Linked DNA regions of Homo sapiens: region 2 is linked to region 1. Evidence: fine-mapped QTL for protein levels in blood plasma. Region 1 holds a variant in brackets. A gene starts in the other region. All regions are shown on their reverse strands.

Region 1 (10,171 bases):
TAATTATCTGTTTAGGAGCCAGCCTGCTCCACTACAACACTAAAGCTCCTGGAGGTCTGGGCTGTGCACTGCTCCATCTTTGGCCTTGTGCTAGCACAGCAGCAGCCATAAGCATCATAGTAGCAAGATCTCATGAACGTTTGTCCATGGATCTAACTATGCACCTGTCTGGGAGTGGCAGGAAAGTTTGACTTCACTGAGCAGGAGACATTTGAACAGGTCTTAAAAAAGTGGTTCAGGCCGGGCGCAGTGGCTCACGCCTTTAATCCCAGTACTTTGGGAGGCCGAGGCAGGCGGATCACGAGGTCAGGAGATGGAGACCACGGTGAAACCCCATCTCTACTAAAAATACAAAAAATTAGCTGGGCGCGGTGGCAGGCGCCTGTAGTCCCAGCTACTCGGGAGGCTGAGGCAGGAGAATGGTGTGAACCCAGGAGGCGGAGCTTGCAGTGAGCCGAGATCGCACCACTGCACTCCAGCCTGGGCGACAGAGCAAGACTCTGTCTCAAAAAAAAAAAAAGTGGTTCAAAAGAGGAAAGTACTTAAGTAGAGGAAAGAAGGCAAAAGAAGTGAAGACAGATAAATGTAACAAAGAAAAAAAAATTAGGTATAAGCAGCAGTATAGCTGCTTTTCTTAAAAGTCTGTGCCACCAGTCAGGATCCTTTTGGCCGCAGATGGCAGAAGCCCACCTGGAGGAGAAACAAGGAAGAGTAGAGGTGCAAGTGGGTCCCAGGACTGCCTGAAATCCCACTGTGATGTCGCAGGAATCTGTTTATCTTAATTTTCCCCACTACTCTGCCTGTGTATGGGCTACATGGCCTCTGGGAGGCCCCAGGAAAGGAGTCTTTTTCTTTTTCTTTTTTTTTTTTCTTTTTTTTTGAGGAGTCTCTCTCTTGTTGCCCAGGCTGGAGTGCAATGGTGCAGTCTTGGCTCACCGCAGTCTCCTGGGTTCAAGCGATTCTCCTGTCTCAGTCTCCTGAGTAGCTGGGATTACAGGCGCCCGCCACCACACCTGGCTAATTTTTGTATATTTGGTAGAGACGGGGTTTTGCCATGTTGGCCAGGCTGGTTTCGAACTCCTGACCTCAGGTGATCCGCCCGCCTCGGCTTCCGAAAGTGCTGGGATTACAGGCATGAGCCATCACGCCCAGCCAGGAGTCTTTTTCTTTAAGTATGAATAGAAAAATTCCAGGAAATTATTCTGATTGGTCTAGATTGAGTCACAGGCCTTGTGGTGATAGTTGGAAGTTAGAGGTGCCCACAAGAACCCCTGACTTGAGTCAGAGTAGTACTACTTCCCCAAAAGAAGCAGGATGCTATTATTAATGGAAAAGAGGTGTGCTATGTAAATACTACAAACTGGTAGTATCTACTGTAGAAGTGGCTTCCAAATCTTTTTGACCTTGGTTCCCAGCAAGAAATGCATTTGATTATTAGGACTCGCTATACTAGCAGGCTAGGTTCCCTTGGAAGCAGATCTGGGCTGGGGAGTTACATGCAGCCTGTTCACTGGGGAGCACCCTAGGAGCAGCACCTGTCAGAGAGCAAGGGATGCAGGACTGGGCAGAGGGAGAGGTTGAACTGTGATGCTCTTACAACCCAGGGGGAGCCTCAATTGATCCCAGAGAGAGTTCTGAAGGTGGGTCATCAGTGGTGTCCCAAATTGAGGCAAGAGTAGGGTGGCCAATCATCCCAGTTTATCTAGTTTGCCCTGGGTTTTCAGGACATGGGACTTTCTGTTTTAAAGCCAGGAAAGTCCCAGGCAAACCAGGACAAGTTGGTCACTCTGGGAGGGCTGGGCCTTTGTACCTACCTTTCAAATTGGCCAGTCACTGGATGTGGGCTTTCCCTGGGAAGGGGTCCTGATCCTGGGTTTACTCAACTCTCTCAGACCATGGGCAGCTCCTGGGGAGGGATTGAATTCTGAGTAGTCAGCAGGCAGCATTCATGGGAGCTGGGGACTGTGTGCCTTAGTCCTGAAGGACAGACTCTGGGTAGTACATCACAGCATCTTCTGCAATCTGCAATATATAAAACTAACACTAGGCAGGGTGTGGTGGCTCATGCCTGTAATCCCAGCACTTTGGGAGGCCAAGGCGGGCAGATCACAAGGTCAGGAGATCGAGACCATCCTGGCCAACATGGTGAAACCTCGTCTCTACTAAAAGTACAAAAATTAGCTAGGCATGGTGGCGTGCGTCTCTAGTCCCAGCTACTCCGGAGGCTGAGGCAGGAGAATTGCTTGACCCCGGGAGGCAGAGGTTGCAGTGAGCTGAGATCCTGCCGCTGCACTCCAGCCTGGTGACAGAGCAAGACTCCATCTCAAACAACAACAACAACAACAACAACAACAAACCCTAAAATTAATATATATAAAACATATATATATATGTAAAATTATGTGTGCGTGGTGTGTGTATGTATATATGTATAAACTTATATAACTGTTTCAGGTAAAAAATATCTATTCTTGTTATATATGATGTACCTTGATATCTTCTTTTTTCTTTTCTTTTTCTTTTTCTTTTTTTTTTTAGATGGAGTTTCACTCTTGTTGCTCAGGCTGAATGAAGTACAATGACTTGATCTTGGCTCACTGCAACCTCTGCCTCCCAGGTTCAAGCGATTCTCCTTCCTCAGCTCCCGAGTAGCTGGAACTACAGTAGTGCGCCACCACGCCCGGCTAACTTTTTGTATTTTTAGTAAAGATGGGGTTTCACCATGTTGGCCAGGCTGGTCTCGAACTCCTGACCTCAGGTGATCCACCCACTTCGGTCTCCCAAAGTGCTGGGATTACAGGCGTGAACCACTGCGCCTGGCCCTTTTCTTTTTTTCTTTCTTTCTTTCTTTTTTTTTTTTGAGACAGGATCTCACTCTGTCACCCAGGCTGGAGTGCAATGGGGCAATCTCAGCTCACCGCCACCTCCACCTCCTGGGTTCAAGCGATTCTCCTGCCTCAGCCTCCCTAGTAGCTGGGATTACAGGCATGAGCCACCACACCCAGCTAATTTTGTATTTTTAGTAGAGATGGGGGGTCTCTCCATGTTAGTCAGGCTGGTCTCGAACTCCCGACCTCAGGTGATCCGCCCACCTTGGCCTCCCAAAGTGCCAGGATTACAGGCATGAGCCACCGCACCCAGCCATGGCTAGCTTCTTTTAAGAATTTTGGGCTGGGTGTGGTGTCTCACACCTGTAATCCCAGCACTTTGGGAGGCCAAGGCGGGTGGATCACCTGAGATCGGGAGTTCGAGACCAGCCTGACTAACATGGAGAGACCCCCATCTCTACTAAAAATACAAAATTAGCTGGGTGTGGTGGCACATGCCTGTAATCCCAGCTACTCGGGAGGCTGAGGCAGGAGAATCGCTTGAACCTGGGAGGCCGAAGTTGCCGTAAGCCGAGATCGCACCATTGTACTCCAGCCTGTGTAACAAGAGCAAAACTCCATCTCAAAAAAAAAAAGATCCTAGCCATAAGCCATGACTTGATTTCCCAATGCACAAACAGATTACAGTTCAGTTCTATGTGCATGGTGCCCTGTGGAGTTGTACAGGACAGCAGCTCAGAAGTGACCTTGCTCAGAGAGCCAGATTGCTCTCTCAGGTCAGCTACTCGTGAATATGCATCACTGACACAAAGCCTTCTGCATACCAGAGGCTATTGGCTCACTGCCACCACCTGCAAAGCTAATGGGGAAGACTCTTCTTTCTCTTCAAGTCTGAATGAATTGAAGTCTGGCCCAAAAGAAGGCAGAAGTATCTTGGGTTCTTAAGAACATAGAGTCAGGTACTTGATAGACTTGTGCTCTGAATGGTGTCCAGCAGGTTAATTTAGACTTCATGAAAATATTTCTTCAGTGCTTACTCTGTACTAGCATTTTAGGTGAACTATCTCATCTGATCATCAGAACAAACCTCTAAAGTAACTTAGTTACTAGTGCTGTCTCTGTTTTAGGGATGAGGAAATTAGGGACTGGAGATTTTAAATAACCTGCTGGAGTTCCTAAAGTTCAGTTTATGTAGATAGAGTTTACGAATGTCTA[G/A]CGATAGAGCCTGACATATTACTATATTTATTGAGTTGCCTGAATAAATGGGCAAATTTCAACTTGAAAGACTGGAAATAGGGATACAAAGCCAAAAATGGAAGAAAGAGCTTTATCCACCAGGCTGCAGATTTTTAGACAAGGGCAAAGTCAGGTCAGGAATCTATAAGACTGGGGTTTGGGTTTCATCTTTCTCTTTGACTAATCTTTATCTAAGTTGATTCATTTCAGTCTTTTTTTTTTTTTTTTTTTTTTGAGACAGGGTCTCATTCTGTTGCCCAGGCTGGAGTGCAGTGGCACAATCTCAGCTCACTGCAACCTCCGCTTCTTGGGTTCAAGCAATTCTTCTACCTCAGCCTCCTGAACAGCTGGGACTACAGGTGTGTGCCACCACGCCCTGCAATTTTTTTTTTTTTTTTGAGACCAGGTCTCGCTCTGTTGCCCAGGCTAGAGTGCAGTGGTGCAATCTCAGCTCACTGCAATCTCCACCTCCCCGATTCAAGCGATTCTCCTGCTTCAGCCTCCCAAGTAGCTGGGATTACAGGCATGTGCCACTACACCCAGCTAATTTTGGATTTTTAGTAGAGACGGGGTTTCTCCATGTTGGTCAGGCTGGTCCCGAACTGCCGACCTCAGGTGATCTGTCTGCCTTGGCCTCCCAAAGTTCTGGGATTACAGGCGTGAGCCACCGCGCCTGGCCTAATTTTTGTATTTTCAGTAGAGATGTGGGATTTAGCCATGTTAGCCAGGCTGGTCTTGAACTCCTGGCCTCAAGTGATCTGCCCCCCTCAGCCTCCCAAAGTGCTGGGATTACAGGCGTGAGCTACCGCACCTGGCCTAGTTTTCTTTTCTTTTTTATACTGTCGTTACCTTTGTTTTCCTTCTACAAATAACTTGTTTCAGAGGAACAATTGTTAAGAGTTCATTGTCCCTTCTGATCTTGGTATGATTAGCTTCTTTGTATCATTCAGGTCTCTGGTCAGATGCTACCAGCACAGAAAGCTCTTTCCCAACCACCTTTTCTAAAAGATCCTTCCGGCCTCTCTCTAACTCCTTTTATTCTTCTTTACTTTCCATCTAAGTACAGTAAGCCCTCTCTATCTGTGGGTTTCATATCTGTGAGTGTGACATCTGTGGATTCAACCAACCATGGATCGAAAATATTCAACGAGACAAAATAGGTGACTGCTGCTGTACAGACTGAATATGTATAGGCCTTTTTTCCCTTTGTCATATTGTCTAACAAGAGAGTATAAAAACTACTTATATAGCTAGGCGTAGTGGTTCACGCCTGTAATCCCAGCACTTTGGGAGGCCGAGGTGGTGGATCATGAGGTTAGGAGCTCAAGACCAGCCGGCTAAGATGGTGAAACCCTGTCTCTACTAAAAATACAAAGATTAGCTGGGCATGGTGGCAGGCACCTGTAATCCCAGCTACTCAGGAGGCAGAGAACTGCTTGAACCTGGGAGGCAGATGTTGCGGTACCGCACTGAAGCCTGTTGACAGAACCACGCTCTGTCTCAAAACAAAAAACAAACAAAAAAAAAACTGGCCGGGCACGGTGGCTCACTCCTGTAATCCCAGCAGTTTGGGAGGCTGAGGCGGGCAGATCACCTGAGGTCAGGAGTTCAAGACCAGCCTGGCCAACGTGGTGAAACCCTGTCTCTACTAAAAATAGAAAAATTAGCTGGGTGTAGTGGTGGGCGCCTGTAGTCCCAGCTACTCAGGAGGCTGAGGCAGGAGAATCACTTGAACCTGGGAGGCAGAGGTTGCAGTGAGCCGAAATCAGGTCACTGCACTCCAGCCTGGGCAATAGAGCATGACTCTGTCTCAAAAACAAAACAAAACAAAGCAAACAAACAAAAACACTACTTATATGCATTTACATTGTATTAGGTATTATAAGTACACTAGAGATCATTTAAAGCACACAAGAGGGTTGGGCAGACTGGCTTATGCCTGTCTTGGGAGGCTGAAGTTGGAGGATCACTTGAGGCCAGGAGTTTGAGACCAGCCTGGGGATCATCGCAATACCTTGTCTCTATAAAAAAATAAAAACAAAAATAACCCTGCATGGTGTCACATGCCTGTAGTCCTGGCTTCTTGGGAGGCTGAGGCAGGTGTTTAAGCCCAGGGATTTAAGGCTGTAGTGAGCTGTGTTTATGCCATTTCACTGCAGCCTGGGTGACATGGTGAGACCGTGTGTCAAAGAAAAACTCAAACTTTTTTTTATTAAGAAAAAAAGTATGCAGGAGGATGTGTGTAGGTTATATACAAGTACTATGCCATTTCATATAAGGATCTTGAGCATCTTTGGATTTTCTTATCCATGGGGGGGTCCTGGAACCAATCCTTCATGGATACCGAGGGACAGCTGTAATAATCAGTGCTTGAAATCTTATTATTTATTTGTCTGTTGCCTGTGTTACCCATTGTAAGGTGAGCTGAAGCTCATGCAGTGAGCCGAGATCGCGCCACTGCACTCCAGCCTGGGCAACAGAGCGAGACTCCGTCTCAAAAAAAAAAAAAAAAGTAGCTCCCAAGATTGTCCAGGGAGTCATGTTTCTTCCTTTCATCCAGGAAGGTTAAATGGCATGCAGTTCTAATGGGCCAGGTCTGGAAGTGATTTCATGTATATATATATATATATATAAAACTTCCCCCCACCCCCACTCTGTCGCACAGGATGGAATGCAGTGGTGTGATCACAGCTCACTCATTGCAGCCACAACCTCCTGGGCTCAAGTGATCCTCCTATCTCAGCTTCCTGAGTTGCTGGGACTACAGGCGCCTGCCAGCCACCATGCCCAGCTAATTTTTGTAATTGCTATAGAGACAAGGTCTTGCTATGTTGCCCATGTTAGTCTTGAACTCCTGGGTTCCAGCAATTCTCCTGCCTTGGCCTACCAAAGTACTGGGATTACAGGCATGAGCCACCACGCCTGGCTGTATATCATTTTTGACCACATTCTACTTGGCACATCCTAAGTTCAAGTGAAGTTGAGAAATACAGTCTAGCTGCGTGCCCAGAAGAAAAACAGATTTGGTGAATAGCTAGCCAATGTCTGCCACTATGGTTAAATTGGTCCCTGTTAGGTTTCTATAAATAAATAATTTGAATTAAAGTAAATCACTACTGTATATTTGTACTGTATAACATCTCAAAACCATTTGTTTCAGATAATTTCTAAAGTCTCTATGATAAAACCAGTTCCTATTTTTTGAGAGCTGCCTTTTATATTCTCTAGGGAGAGGAAAGAAAAGAGAAACTTGAACCTGATTTTGTAAAACATCTATTTGTATCTAAATTGCTTTACAAGATTGTGAAATGTTTCAATATAAGCTGCAGTTTTGACTTGATTACAAAACCTGTTAGAGTTGCCCCCAGAGGTATGGATTTTTCTCACAGAGGGGCTGTTGACACTGCAAAATACATTTCAGAGGGTTTGAAAATCTTACCACATTGAAAGGAATGGATTTTTAGAAAAATTCCAAATTCTAGTTTAGGTACAGGTGAAGCCAGTGGTCCCACTTAGATTGCCTTACCATAATGCTTCTTTTCTAACTTAATACTGGTCAAGACCATAAACTCCAGAAGAATGAGTTTTAGGCCATTGGTCAGAGGGGTAGAAAGGTGATAATATGAAATGAACTAACATTTACTGAGCCTTATTTGTCAGGACCATGCAAGACACCGTGCCCATAGTTGATTTTCTTTAATCCTCACTTCAACACTGACAGGAAGGTAGAGGAGGAGAGCATGCTCCCGGTCTTATTGGTGGAGACCCTATCTCTAGGAGGCTAATTTACTTGTGATCCCACAGCCAACAAGGGACAAACATGGATGTGGCTAAGGTTCATCTGACTCCAAAGCCCACGCTCTTGACTAGACTGGACTAAGCAGGAGAGTGAAAATGAAGAACTTGGGAAATGAGCTAGAGACTAACATTAACAATTTGTGGAACTCAGCTCCTCTGTCTTTTCTTTCCTAAAAATCCCCGAAGATGATTAATTCCTTTGTATCTCTGTTAGCCACTAGCCCTGTAGAAAGACTCAAGTCAGGTGTATGGTTAGAGCTTCAGATCCAACACGTATCAGCTTTCTGATCTTTCTCATCCCTTATCAAAATTGCCTTGCAAGGAGTTTTTCCAAACCAGCTGTCTGTGGGAGCAATTAAGTTCCAATCCTGATTCTGACGGTGAAGTTCTGGCTGCCCTGACCACACCTCCATGGGGAAAAAACTGAAACGGACAGATGAAGGGAGCAATTCCAAGAATAATTTTGGCACTTGATTTAAGACTGGAAAATAATTTTCCTTCTTATTTGGGCAAGGAAAATGCCTCAAGGACAGTAAGAGCCTGTGGGAGCGGTCCAGCGGAGAGCCCCTTTTCCTCTTCTCTTCTGCCAGGGCTCAGGTCTGTAAAACAGCTGAACTATTTGCCACCTTCCTGAGTTTTGCTCTCTGTAGTTTATAGTGCAGCTGGAAATATGTACATTATTTAAATAAAAAATTAAGCCAAATAGCAAGACTTTGGAGTGTTAGAAACAACAATATTTACAATACTTGTACAAGAATTAAACTGAAATTTCAATGTCATCTATAAGGTAAGTTTTTTGAACTCTAAGAATTTTATATTGACTGGGCACGGTGGCTCATGCCTGTAATCCCAGCACTTTGGGAGGCCAAGGTGGGTGGATCACCTGAGGTCAGGAGTTCGAGACCAGCCTGACCAACATGGCGAAATGCCCTCTCTACTAAAAATTCAAAAATTAGCCGGGCATGGTGGTGTAATCCCAACTACTCAGGAGGCTGAGGCAGGAGAATCGTTTGAACTCAGGAGGCGGAGGTTGCAGTGAGCTGAGATTGCGCCATTGCACTCCAGCCTCGGTGACAGAGCAAGACTCCATCTGGAAAAAAAAAAAAAAAAAAAAAAAGCTGACACTTAATGTACTGATATTTAATGATCTCCAGGTTGTATTGTTAAATTGTTAAGTGAAAAAAGGCAAATGCAGAACAGTGTGGAAAATATACACAAAAGTAACAGTAGAGAAAGGGGAGTGGAGAGAATATATATGTTTTTGCTTTATATACGTGTTGTGGTCTGAATGTTTGTGTCTCCCCCAACCCCCTTCTCCAAATTCATATATTGAAACCTAATCCCCAATGTAATGGTATTTGGAGGTAGGGCTTCTGGGTGGTGATTAAGTCATGAGGGTGGAGCCCTCATAATGGGATCAATGCCCTTATAAAAGTGGCCCCAGAGAGATTTTTTACTGCTTTCAGCCATGTGAGGACACAGCAAGATGGCTGGCTATGAACCAGGAAGTGGGTTCTCATCAAACACCTAATCTGGGCCAGGTGCTGGTAGCACACACCTGTAATCCCAGCACTTTGGGAGGCCGAGGCAAAAGGATTGATTGAGGCCAGGAGTTCAAGACCAGCCTGGACAACATGGTGAGACCTTGTCTCTACAAAAAAAACAAAAAATAAAAAATAAGTAACTGGTTGTAGTGGTATGTGCCTGTAGTCCCAGCTACTTGGGAGGCTGAGGTAGGAGGATACTTTGAGCCCAGGAGTTTGAGGCTGGAGTGAACCACGATCCTGCCAGTGCACTCCAGCCTGGGCAACAGAGTGAGACCTTGTCTCAAACAAACCAAACAAACAAATGAGAAAACACCTAATCTGCTGAACCTAGATTTTAGGTTTCCAAGCTCCCAGGACTGTGAGAAATAAATTTCTGTTGTTTATAAGTCCATGGGCTATAATATTTTGTTATAGCACCCATATGAACTAAGATAATGTATAAACTGTCTCTAAAAGGACATAGAGAAAATTGTAACATCAGTTATTTCCAGAGGAGAACTGGGTAGCTGGATTATAGGGGTGAGAGGGAAACTCTTTGTATGTTCTTTGCAGCTTTTGAGTTTGATACCATTCAACTATATTAAAAATTTAACAGATTTTTTTAAATTAAAAGGATTGAGAATTTAAAAACATAACAAAATAAGCATAACAAATAGTCTTGTTTTGTTTTTTAATAGAGACAGCATTTTGCCATGTTGCCCAGGCTGGTCTTGAACTCCTGGACTCAAGGGATTTGCCCACCTCAGCCTCCCAAAGTTGCTG
Region 2 (10,171 bases), not on the chromosome of region 1:
AGGAGAGTTGCCTATTGGACTGAAGCTATTTTTCTCTCTTCCCACAAACCACACGCGCTAAAGTCAGGAAAGTTAAAAGTGTCTAGGACTCTCCATAGTTGGCATACTAGCTCCTAAGATGCCCGTGTTGGCTCCTGGATATTTAACAACTGCCGTGTTATTTTCTGGTGTCTACCTGGCTTTCTGAACTCCTGTTTCTGTGGTGACTGTTTCTGACCAGCTGTTCTTGACTTTCTGTATAATTTCCACTTTGAAGAATCCATCTATTTCCACTCAATGCTTCTTTCAGATGAGACATAATGATTGAGAGTATGGGAAGAAAGAAATAAAAATAAAATTAAACCTGTTGTTCATCCCCTGTAGGGAGCTCACAAACATGCCTGGTGTCTTCGCTTCATTCAAGAGCTTTAGCTCTGCATAATGATAAGCATTGATCTATCAGCAATGGCTGGCCCTGCAAACTCGGGTGTGATTATTTTCTGGGCATCTGAACCTGGATTGTCTCTCACACTTGGGTACACTTCGTTTTCCCCTATTATAATGTCTGTGAGGTTAAGTTGGGCCATTGCTTGCCAATAGTTAATGGGCCTTGGTTTAGAGTGTGGTGGTTTGACACCTTTAGTCATTAGTAGAGTCTACAGATTAATGATAATAATTGCTACCCTTAATTGAGCCTTTCCTGTGTGCCAGGTGCAGAGCTAAATGCTCTGCCCAAATTTCCCCACTCAGTTCTCACAAGAAGCTATGGACTGAATATGATTTTCATGATTGCAATTTTCTTGGATGAAGGAAGGTTTGTAACTTGCTGTATGGTCATAAAGCTAGTAGGAGGTAGAGCTGACTCTAAACACCCTGTTTTTAACCATAGAGCTAAAAAACCCGAATGCAAATGGACTCTTGTGGCATCACGCCAATGGCATCTACAAAGTCAAACACCATCTGCTTCAGATTTACCTGGGTGCTGGTTAAGTAAACCTTCCCAGTTCATGGGCAGAGCCATTATCTCAGAGTAAGGCCAGAGAGTCTCTGTTGGAAAGAAGCATCCCAGCTGATTCTTACAAGTAGCCATTGGTTTGGACCCCACATTTAGACTCTTCTTATCTACACAACATAAACACGAGTGGCCAGGCACATGTCATACACCCAGCACTGAGCTATGGCTTTCCTAGATGCTAACATACTATATAAAGAAAGCCAAGTTGAATAAAATGTAGCGAGAAATTTTGACAGCATGCATCAGTGTTACTAGTTGCAATGGAATTTTTTTTCTTAAATGTATACTGTGAGGCTTTCTATATCAGAGCATCTTTCTAAACTTGGAGTAAGTGATTTTTAGAGTCGGATCAGTATAACAAAAAAGGGAGATTGCTGTTCAATCAATGCCACTTTTTAAACTTTAATTAAGAGTAAACTATGGAGAAGAAGTGTGAATGTGATAGATCACTATTGGATGATCTACTCAGAAACCCTTTCTTTTTTAAAAAATATTTTAAATGTGGGCTGGGCGCGGTGGCTCACGCCTGTAATCCCAACACTTTGGGAGGCCGAGGCAGGAGGATTATGAGGTCAAGAGATCGAGACCATCCTGGCTAACATGGTGAAACCCCGTCTCTACTAAAAATACAAAAAAATTAGCCGGGCGTGGTGGTGGGCACCTGTAGTCCCAGCTACTTGGGAGACTGAGGCAGGAGAATGGCGTGAACCCGGGAGGCGGAGCTTGCAGTGAGCCAAGATCATGCCACTGCACTCCAGCCTGGGCAACAGAGCGAGACTGCACCTCAAAAAACAAAAAATTTTCAAACGTGAATCACAATGTAATACACAATTGCTGTGAGCACATATATAATAAGGAAACATCTGAAATACAATTAATAGTGTTTCCTTCTATTCAATTCCTTTAAATTTGACAAGTTGTTGCCAACTTGTATTCTCTGTGTATTGAAATACACACATATCTGTACACACTTGCAGGGAATTAACTTGGAATCACACAACACAAATTAGTCTGCCTCTTGTTCTTCTTCCCTTTGCCACATATTGCTTATATTAGCTTTCTAGGATTTTTCCTTTTCCCATGCCCCGCCCCAATTTTCTACACACCTCATTGCTGGGATATCAGTCACGTGTGCAGCATGATTCTGTTTCTACAGCCAAGTTGATTGGTTTGGGATTGGGCATCTGAACGCAGATGGCTGCAGTGCATCTCTTCTCGGGGATCTGGGGGCATCTCTGAGTGGATGGCTTTGTTATGTGTGAAATCTGGAAGTATCAGCTGCCATTTTCCCTCATGCGGGCCTCAGAGAACGGTAGATTGCAGTGAGCCAAAGAATAATGAAGATGTGCCCAGGAGAGGGGAAGAGAGGGAGGGACACAGAGAGAGCAGAGAGAGAGAGAGAGAGAGAGAGAGAGAGAGAGAGAGAGAGAGACAGTGGGGAGAGAGAAAGAGAGAGATGGGGGAGAGAGAGAGAAAGAGAGAGACGGGGAGAGAGAGAGAGACTGGAGAGAGAGAGGGAGAGGGAGGGAGGGAGAGAGAGAGAGAGAGAATTTTTTAGGTTCTTTCTAAGATTTTACTACAGTCTCAAGGTTCAACTCAACACATTTCAAGATGTGGCCCTTTCCACAAAACCTTTTCTCACTGGGCTTCCATTCTTAGTAACTAAGGTGGACTTGACGTTTTAAGCCCCCAACATTTCTGAAATAATTTTACTTTTCCTATCATACTTAGATCATAGTGATTAAATGTTATATTGTTTCCCTTATGAGAACTAAAAGCAATGATGTTACTTTATTCAGTAAACTTTATTTATGCATACCTACTCTCTGCTAAATTCTGTCCTCCCAAAGAGTTAATGGTCCAGGGAAAACACAACAATAAATCAACTAAAACCATTATGATAAATATAATGACTGGAACATGCTCAGGGTATCATGGGAAGCCAAAAAGGGGCATCAAAACCTGTCTGCAGCCATGACCAAGACGTCTCACTTCTCACTGATGTCTTAGACACGTACCTTATTTGCCAATGGGGTGAGTGGAATAAACTATCTAGAAAAACTGTCCCAAACAATTTTCAAATTCTAAAACCAATTGAGAAGTATTTTTTACAGCATCCATCTATTTTTTTCCCACAATACCATCCTCATATGAAACAAGTCTGTCATTTGGCTGTCTCCAGAAGGAGCTATGAAGATTTACTCAACATGACTCTGGAACTTTCCAGACTATGTAAGTTCTCACATATTGGTTGTTCATGGAGACTTTTTCTTCTTCTTCTTTTTTTCTAATATACTTTAAGTTTTAGGGTACATGTGCACAACGCGCAGGTTTGTTACATATGTATACATGTGCCATGTTGGTGTGCTGCACCCATTAACTCGTCATTTAACAGGTATATCTCCTAATGCTATCCCTCCAACCTCCCCCCACCCCACAACAGTCCCTGGTGTGTGATGTTCCCCTTCCTGTGTCCATGTGTTCTCATTGTTCAATTCCCAGCTATGAGTGAGAACATGCGGTGTTTGGTTTTCTGTCCTTGAGAGAGTTTGCTGAGAATGATGGTTTCCAGCTTCATCCATGTCCCTACAAAGGACATGAACTCATCCTTTTTTATGGCTGCATAGTATTCCATGGTGTATATGTGCCACATTTTCTTAATCCAGTCTATCATTGATGGACATTTGGGTTGGTTCCAAGTCTTTGCTATTGTGAATAGTGCTGCAATAAACATACATGTGCATGTGTCTTTATAGCAGCATGATTTATAATCCTTTGGGTATATACCCAGTAATGGGATGGCTGGGTCAAATGGTATTTCTAGTTCTAGATCCCTGAGGAATTGCCACACTGACTTCCACAATAGTTGAACTAGTTTACAGTCCCACCAAGACTTTTTCTTCTTAAGCTACTTACTCTCCCTCAAAAAAGATCATTAGCTTGGGCTGATAACTATCATTATAAAGAGCAAAGGGTAATTAAGCAACTCAGTGGAACTTTGTCTGGGTATGATGCAAGCCTCACTGCTCTCTCTCTCTCGATTTTCCATCTTCTGCACGACTGACCTGCGGCTGTCTCTGCTGCATGATGCATGGAGTCTGCTTTCATTCAACCACAGTGAGGCCCTTAGAGCTGAATACCTTGTGTGTGTCTGTCTTTGCCTTCTCAGAAACATTTTCTTCACAGTCAGAAAATAGCTCATAGATCCTTACTGTCTTGGGCTTGCTTGAAACTTGGTTTCTCTAAAGGATGGCTGGACAAGCAGTCATTGAATTTACTGACCTCAGAAGTATTGCTTTCCTATGCAAGGATAGTTTAGATTCTAATTTACTTTAAAGTTAAGCCCAGCTGCAGAGAACTGAAATGCATTTCTGCGTCATCTCTAAAGGTCTAGGAGAAAAAAAAAATCCTAGGCATCAAATACAATATGGGAATCTCAGAAAGGGAAAATATTTGGGTCACTGCTAGGTCTTCTAATAGCATATTTTCAACTGGAAAAATACAAGAAAAAGAAAAAGAAAAACAGATCTATGCTGTGGTTGGAGAGAAACTTAAACTTGATCTTGTTTCTTTTCTCCTGGGGATGCTGGGGCTGAAGTAGGGGGTGAGGAACAGGTGATGCCTCCTTTCCCAAAATGTTGGAAAAGCATTTCCTACAGGCAGGAGATTGGATTTGTTAGTCTTTTGGCAAGAGATCCATAGCCTTTTGTGGTATGGTTTCTGGGACAATGTTCTAATGAGGATTCTGGATGACAGGGAGCGGTATGTTACTAAAACTAGCTCAAGGGAATTGGGTTTTTATTTCAAAGACATAGGAGGATACCAAGAAACCCAAGGTTAGGAGAAAATGTTTCTGGAACTCTTGTAAGCAAGAGTTCAGAACTGGCGATTGACTATTCACTCCCTGTACTTCTTAGAAGTGCTCATGCTCCAGAATTGGCTTCTTTCTACAAGTGTGGCCAGTCCTCTGGTTTATTCCAATACCTCTTCTGCTTCAGCTTGCAGATGACTCCTACATGGCCACGTCAGTTTGGGAGACTACAAACCTTGTCTCTGCCACATGTAGTGCTTACTGGAAGCTATTTTGATGTCTCATTAAGATTGCAGAGAGAAAATCTGGCAGCCCCAAGTCATCTGGCCAAGTTGGACCATACAAATCTTGGACTTCTGGTATCAAATGCATTGATGGTCCTAGAACCCAGGGGCTATCCGTGTTTAATCAACTGTTGTGGGAAAAAGAGTCAGGACCCTCTGATTCACAATATAAGATAACTTCTCTTAGCGGGGGTCCACAGAAAATGCTGTGTTCCTTATCTTCAGAACACTTTGAAGAGCAGAACATCCTTTAGTAAGGAACCGAGACCCTTATCCCCAATTATTAAGGAGGCTTTGAATTTAAATTTTACTGAGAGAGACTCATTTAAAGCAGTTTATACTATAATATGAGTGATAATTACCTTCTATTAGGAAGCATTCAGTCATTTCTCAATTATTGAGTCTTTACTATGGTCACTATGCAGATTTTGGGACTAAAAATGAATATTTTTGGTGAGAGAAAGAATAGGTTTCTTCAAATCTCAGTTCTTGCGTGCAGGAAGTGCCTGGAGAAGAAAAGGAGGTAGAGAGAATATATTGGAATTGGTGAGGAAGATAGCTTATTTTCTATTTAACAATTCAACACAGTTTTTTTTTTTTTTTTTTTTTTTTTTTTGTCAAACTTCTCCCAGCCTGAAATTGAACAACCAAAGTTCTAGTTATTGAACAGCTGTCCCAGACAAGGAAGGCAGGGTGCTTACCCCTACAGGAAATAAAAGGAACTAAATTCAACTCAGCACCCACCCTCAAAAGACTGCATCAAATGAGAAGAAATTGCTGCTGTTAACCAGGCAGACATCCCTAAAATCTGGAAGAGAGTTACAAAGTGCAGAGAGGGATCAGGTGAAGATTGTGCTGGGCTTAGGGTGGGGCATCAAAGCTGGGTAAATGGTGGCCATCTTCAGAAGGCACTAGTTCACCTTGTTTGGTTGTAGCTTAGATAGGTAACTTTCAACATTTTAACAAATAGCATGGTACTAGCACCTGCCAGCCGGAACTGACACCGGCCTGTAGTCTCAGCTACTGGGGAGGCTGAGGTAGTAGAATCGCTTGAGCCCAGTAGTTTTGCATCTAGCCTGGGCAATATAGCGAGACCACCCCCCACCACAAGTAAAATAAAATCATAAAGTCAAAACACCTGATACTGGCCCCACTGGAGCAGAATCTGAAGGCCCCTGTGGCACCAAGTATTAACACTTTAGTTGAGAGATTATAGGGAGGTGAGGGTTAGGGGATTCCTCGTAGTGTCTTCAATTTTAACAGTTGGAGCTGGTGCTTATAGCTCAATGCCCGGCCCTTCTGAAGGAAGGGAAAAAGGCTGGAGACGAGGTTCACCTTGTTTTGTGGAGGGCTCGAATGCCACGCTCATGAGGGCGTCCTTCACTCAGGAAGGAATGGGAGCCGTCCATCCCAAGGACCTCCCTCAATAAACATCCCTTCCATTCATAACTAGCCAATGCCATTTTAGGAGCTCCGAATGCCTGGAGGGGATACTGTTTTGGTTAAAGATACCATACGTGTCTGCCCTCTGGCAGCTGGAAGTGTAGAAGAAATTGGGGAAGGGGCGCCATGACCCCACAGCATCACAGAATTGGAAAGCTGGCGGGATGGGGGTGGGGAGGACCTTAGTTAACGCCGCGCCCCCCTCTCAGAGAGGGTTAGTGACTCGGCCAAGTTCACGCAGCCGGGTCCAGACAGAGACAAACCTCCCTTCCCCGTGGTAGCTGCAGAAGAGGAAGGGAACTCTTGCAAATCAGAGGCCAAGATAGCAGTGGAGTGGCACGGGGGCGGAAAGCGCATCCAAAGGGGAGAAAAATGCTGTATTCCTAGGAGTGGGATTGTCTTTTATTTTTATTTTTATTTTTATTTTTTTATTGTTGTTGGCACGGTTTCGGAGGACTTATTCTTGCTGAGTTAACTCCCTCTCCCACTCTTTTTTTTGGCCATGCCTGGGGAGGATTCGCGGTGTGGGGGGAAGGCGCGCCCCTGCGGCTTCTGAGGCTCATCTTCCCGGAGCGGAAGGAAGGAATCAGGCACCTCCTCCCAGCCGCCCCCACGGGCTCTGGTCCGCCCCAAGGCTTCCCTGAGCTCGCCAGGCCCCAGGGCTGTGTGGGGCGGGCTCCCGGCCAGGCGCGGTCGGGACGCCCGCCGGTCCCCAGGTTCGGGGCAGCGCGCAGCGCGGGTCCGCGGCGGCTTATCCTTTTTCGCGACCCGGCCTGGCAGCGCCGCGCTCCGCTTGGAGGGCACTCGGCGGCAGAGTTCCGCGCTGGGAGGGGTGAGGGGACCAGCCGCCTCCTCTGCGGACTCAGATCGAGCAGGAGAGAGTGGGCGCGGAGCTGGGGCCAGCGCAGGGCCGTGGGCTCCTCTCTGGGCACGCATCCTTTACGCCACGGGCTTTCAGGGGCTGAGGGGCCTCGAACCTTGCCAATCACCAGTGCTGTGCGCCCCGCTTGCTTTGGGGTGCGTTAAACGTCAGGAGAGAGCTGCTCAGATGGGGTCACCAGACGCCTTCTCCCCCTTTTCTCGGAGCCCGCGGGTTGCGCGATAAGCCAACCCAGCCGGACGCTGCGCTCCTATAAATAGAGCGCGTGTGCCCGCTTCGCGCTCTCCGGGCTGCACGAGGGACGAGAAAGTTGTGCGCAGGGACTGGGGGCGGGCGGCCAGGCAGGAGAGGACCCCGCCGGACCAGCCGCCCTGAACGCTGCGCCCGGCGCCCTGGACCTGATCCTGCGAATCCGCGCTTTCGGTGCGAGGGACCTGGCTAGCCGCTGCCTCCCTCCCTACCTCTGGGTGACACCAGGTTTGGGGGATTTTTTTGACCAGGCGAAAGTGGGAGTCGCTGGCGTCCTGGCCATGAACACAGCCTCGCGTTCTTCTCAGCCTGGGAAGGACCTTCTGCCTCTGTAACTCGTCCCTGCCGCAAGCCAGACAGGACTGGCACCCGCGCCGCTGGGCACCCGCCACCCTTGTGGCTTCTCTTTGAGTCCCCTCTTTTTGTTCCTGCTCCGTGGTTTAGCTGGTGGTGCTTGAGTTTGGGGTGAGAATTTATTATTATTATTATTTTTTGCCTTGAGGTGTGAATGTGAGGGTTTGATGACTTTCAGATGTCTAGGAACCAGAGTGGGTGCAGGGGCCCCAGGCAGGGCTGATTCTTGGGCGGAGGAGAGTAGGGTAAAGGGTGCTGCATGAGCTCCTTAAAGGACAAAGGTAACAGAGCCAGCGAGAGAGCTCGAGGGGAGACTTTGACTTCAAGCCACAGAATTGGTGGAAGTGTGCGCGCCGCCGCCGCCGTCGCTCCTGCAGCGCTGTCGACCTAGCCGCTAGCATCTTCCCGAGCACCGGGATCCCGGGGTAGGAGGCGACGCGGGCGAGCACCAGCGCCAGCCGGCTGCGGCTGCCCACACGGCTCACCATGGGCTCCGGGCGCCGGGCGCTGTCCGCGGTGCCGGCCGTGCTGCTGGTCCTCACGCTGCCGGGGCTGCCCGTCTGGGCACAGAACGACACGGAGCCCATCGTGCTGGAGGGCAAGTGTCTGGTGGTGTGCGACTCGAACCCGGCCACGGACTCCAAGGGCTCCTCTTCCTCCCCGCTGGGGATATCGGTCCGGGCGGCCAACTCCAAGGTCGCCTTCTCGGCGGTGCGGAGCACCAACCACGAGCCATCCGAGATGAGCAACAAGACGCGCATCATTTACTTCGATCAGGTCAGACCCGGGGGGAAGCGAGCACCTAGGGGGTGGGCGGTCTCCAGGCACCTCAGCACGAGGCTGCCTGCCCAGGCTAAGCTGGTCCGATTGGGAAATGGGGAATCATGTAAAGCACTCGCCTTCCCAAATATGCCTGGGTCTGAAACTTCTACCGTCCCTCTTCCTACCCCTCTCACCAGCCCCGGCTCCCATTTCTTCCGGGCCCCTAAAAGAGGCTGCTGCGGCGGCGGGGGAGAGGCTTGGGAGCCCAGAGCCCGGCAGCGAGAGCTCAGGGCAAGTTTCGAGCAACAGGTCGGCGGGAGCCGAAGGGCACCTGGTCCCTGGACGTCGTTATCTCTTGGCCAGATCTTGGTGCCCTTGCTCAGACTCCTCTGCGGGTGCCGCTGAGGCTGCTCCCTGGGTACCTTTGCGGAACAGGATAAATGTTTGATTTGTTTCTCCCAGGTAGAGAAGCTTCTCTCCCAAGAGAGCCCCGGGCTTCCACACTCTTCAGAGATCGGGCAGGTGGCCGCGGAGGGCGGGGGCAGAGCCGGGGGTCAGATCTCGCCTGCAGGTTCCACTGTTCGTGTGCCAGGCACCGCTGGCACTGCCGCTGCCTCGGAGTAGGCAGCAAGCCCTTCTCCGGTACTTAGAGAAAAGTTGCGGAGGAGGGGAGGAAAAGGAATTTGGCAACTGCGCTGAGCTCCTGTAGGAAAGCGCTTGGGAGCCAGTTCTCCCTTCCCGGGCTCATGTCCTTTCAGAGAATTGCAAATAGCTGGGGAAAGACAGACTTTGAGGTTGATGAGAGTAGGGGAAGAGCTGACGGAAGCTGTAGCTGCTGTTTAGCGACCTGGTGCTCCGTGTTTGGCTTGATGAGAAACCCCAGGATATCAGCTTACCTTTAGCAAGGGGTCTTAAGGGAGAAAACTGTCCTCAGAGTTTTTAATTTCAGCCCCAACAGTATCCAGAGTCTTTTTAAATTCCAAATTCACAGTTCACAGTTGTATGCAAAGCTGCAATGTGCAGGGGGCACAGGTTAAGTGGTGTTGCAGGATGTGCCAGGGAAAGCACGAGGTGACATCTGTATTCCTTGCTTAATTTTTCCTAACTAATGCACTCTCCAGCTGGCCAAAGACAGAGAATGCCTCTCTAGGGGCTTAGTATTTGATAGACATAATTTTTAAAGAATTAAGTAGCTCCATTTGGGGTTTTGGTGCAGTATTTTCCATCTTGATGGAAATAAAGTCTAGCACCACCCCTAGTTTGTATTTCAATGCTTTAATTAAATGTTGGAATACTGTGGGCATTGCACTATCCTCTATACAGGGTGTTCCTTTCAATGACCTTTCCATCAATTAGAAGAGGAAAAGGGTTTGTTCTTCTTTTCAGTGAGCCTT

Direction of the effects. Alleles are on the strand shown, and positions count from the first base shown. The strength of an association depends on the size of the effect and on how common the allele is.
For the plasma level of the protein whose gene starts at base 7,154 in region 2, G is the high allele of the variant in region 1 and A is the other (weak association).

What was found. A credible set is the group of variants that fine-mapping cannot tell apart. PIP is the posterior inclusion probability: the model's chance that the variant is causal. Protein levels are from antibody-based Olink assays in UK Biobank. Linkage for the fine-mapping came from a reference panel and not from the study's own genotypes, which makes the PIPs less certain.
Region 2: it holds the start of CBLN4, and the variant in region 1 is the best candidate, but not a certain one, in a credible set for the plasma level of the CBLN4 protein (UK Biobank, PIP 0.61).

The regions. Positions count from the first base shown.
Region 1 is chr4:56,855,018-56,865,188 of GRCh38, reverse strand. No RefSeq gene overlaps it. Among named protein-coding and RNA genes, the nearest start is that of SPINK2, 38 kb to the right of the region's middle. RefSeq lists an enhancer at 4,935-5,004. The variant G/A (reference allele first, on the strand shown) is at 4,044.
Region 2 is chr20:56,002,502-56,012,672 of GRCh38, reverse strand. It overlaps CBLN4 (cerebellin 4 precursor), which reads left to right and starts at 7,154. Exons shown (of 3, transcript NM_080617.6): 1 at 7,154-8,792. The coding sequence starts at 8,502.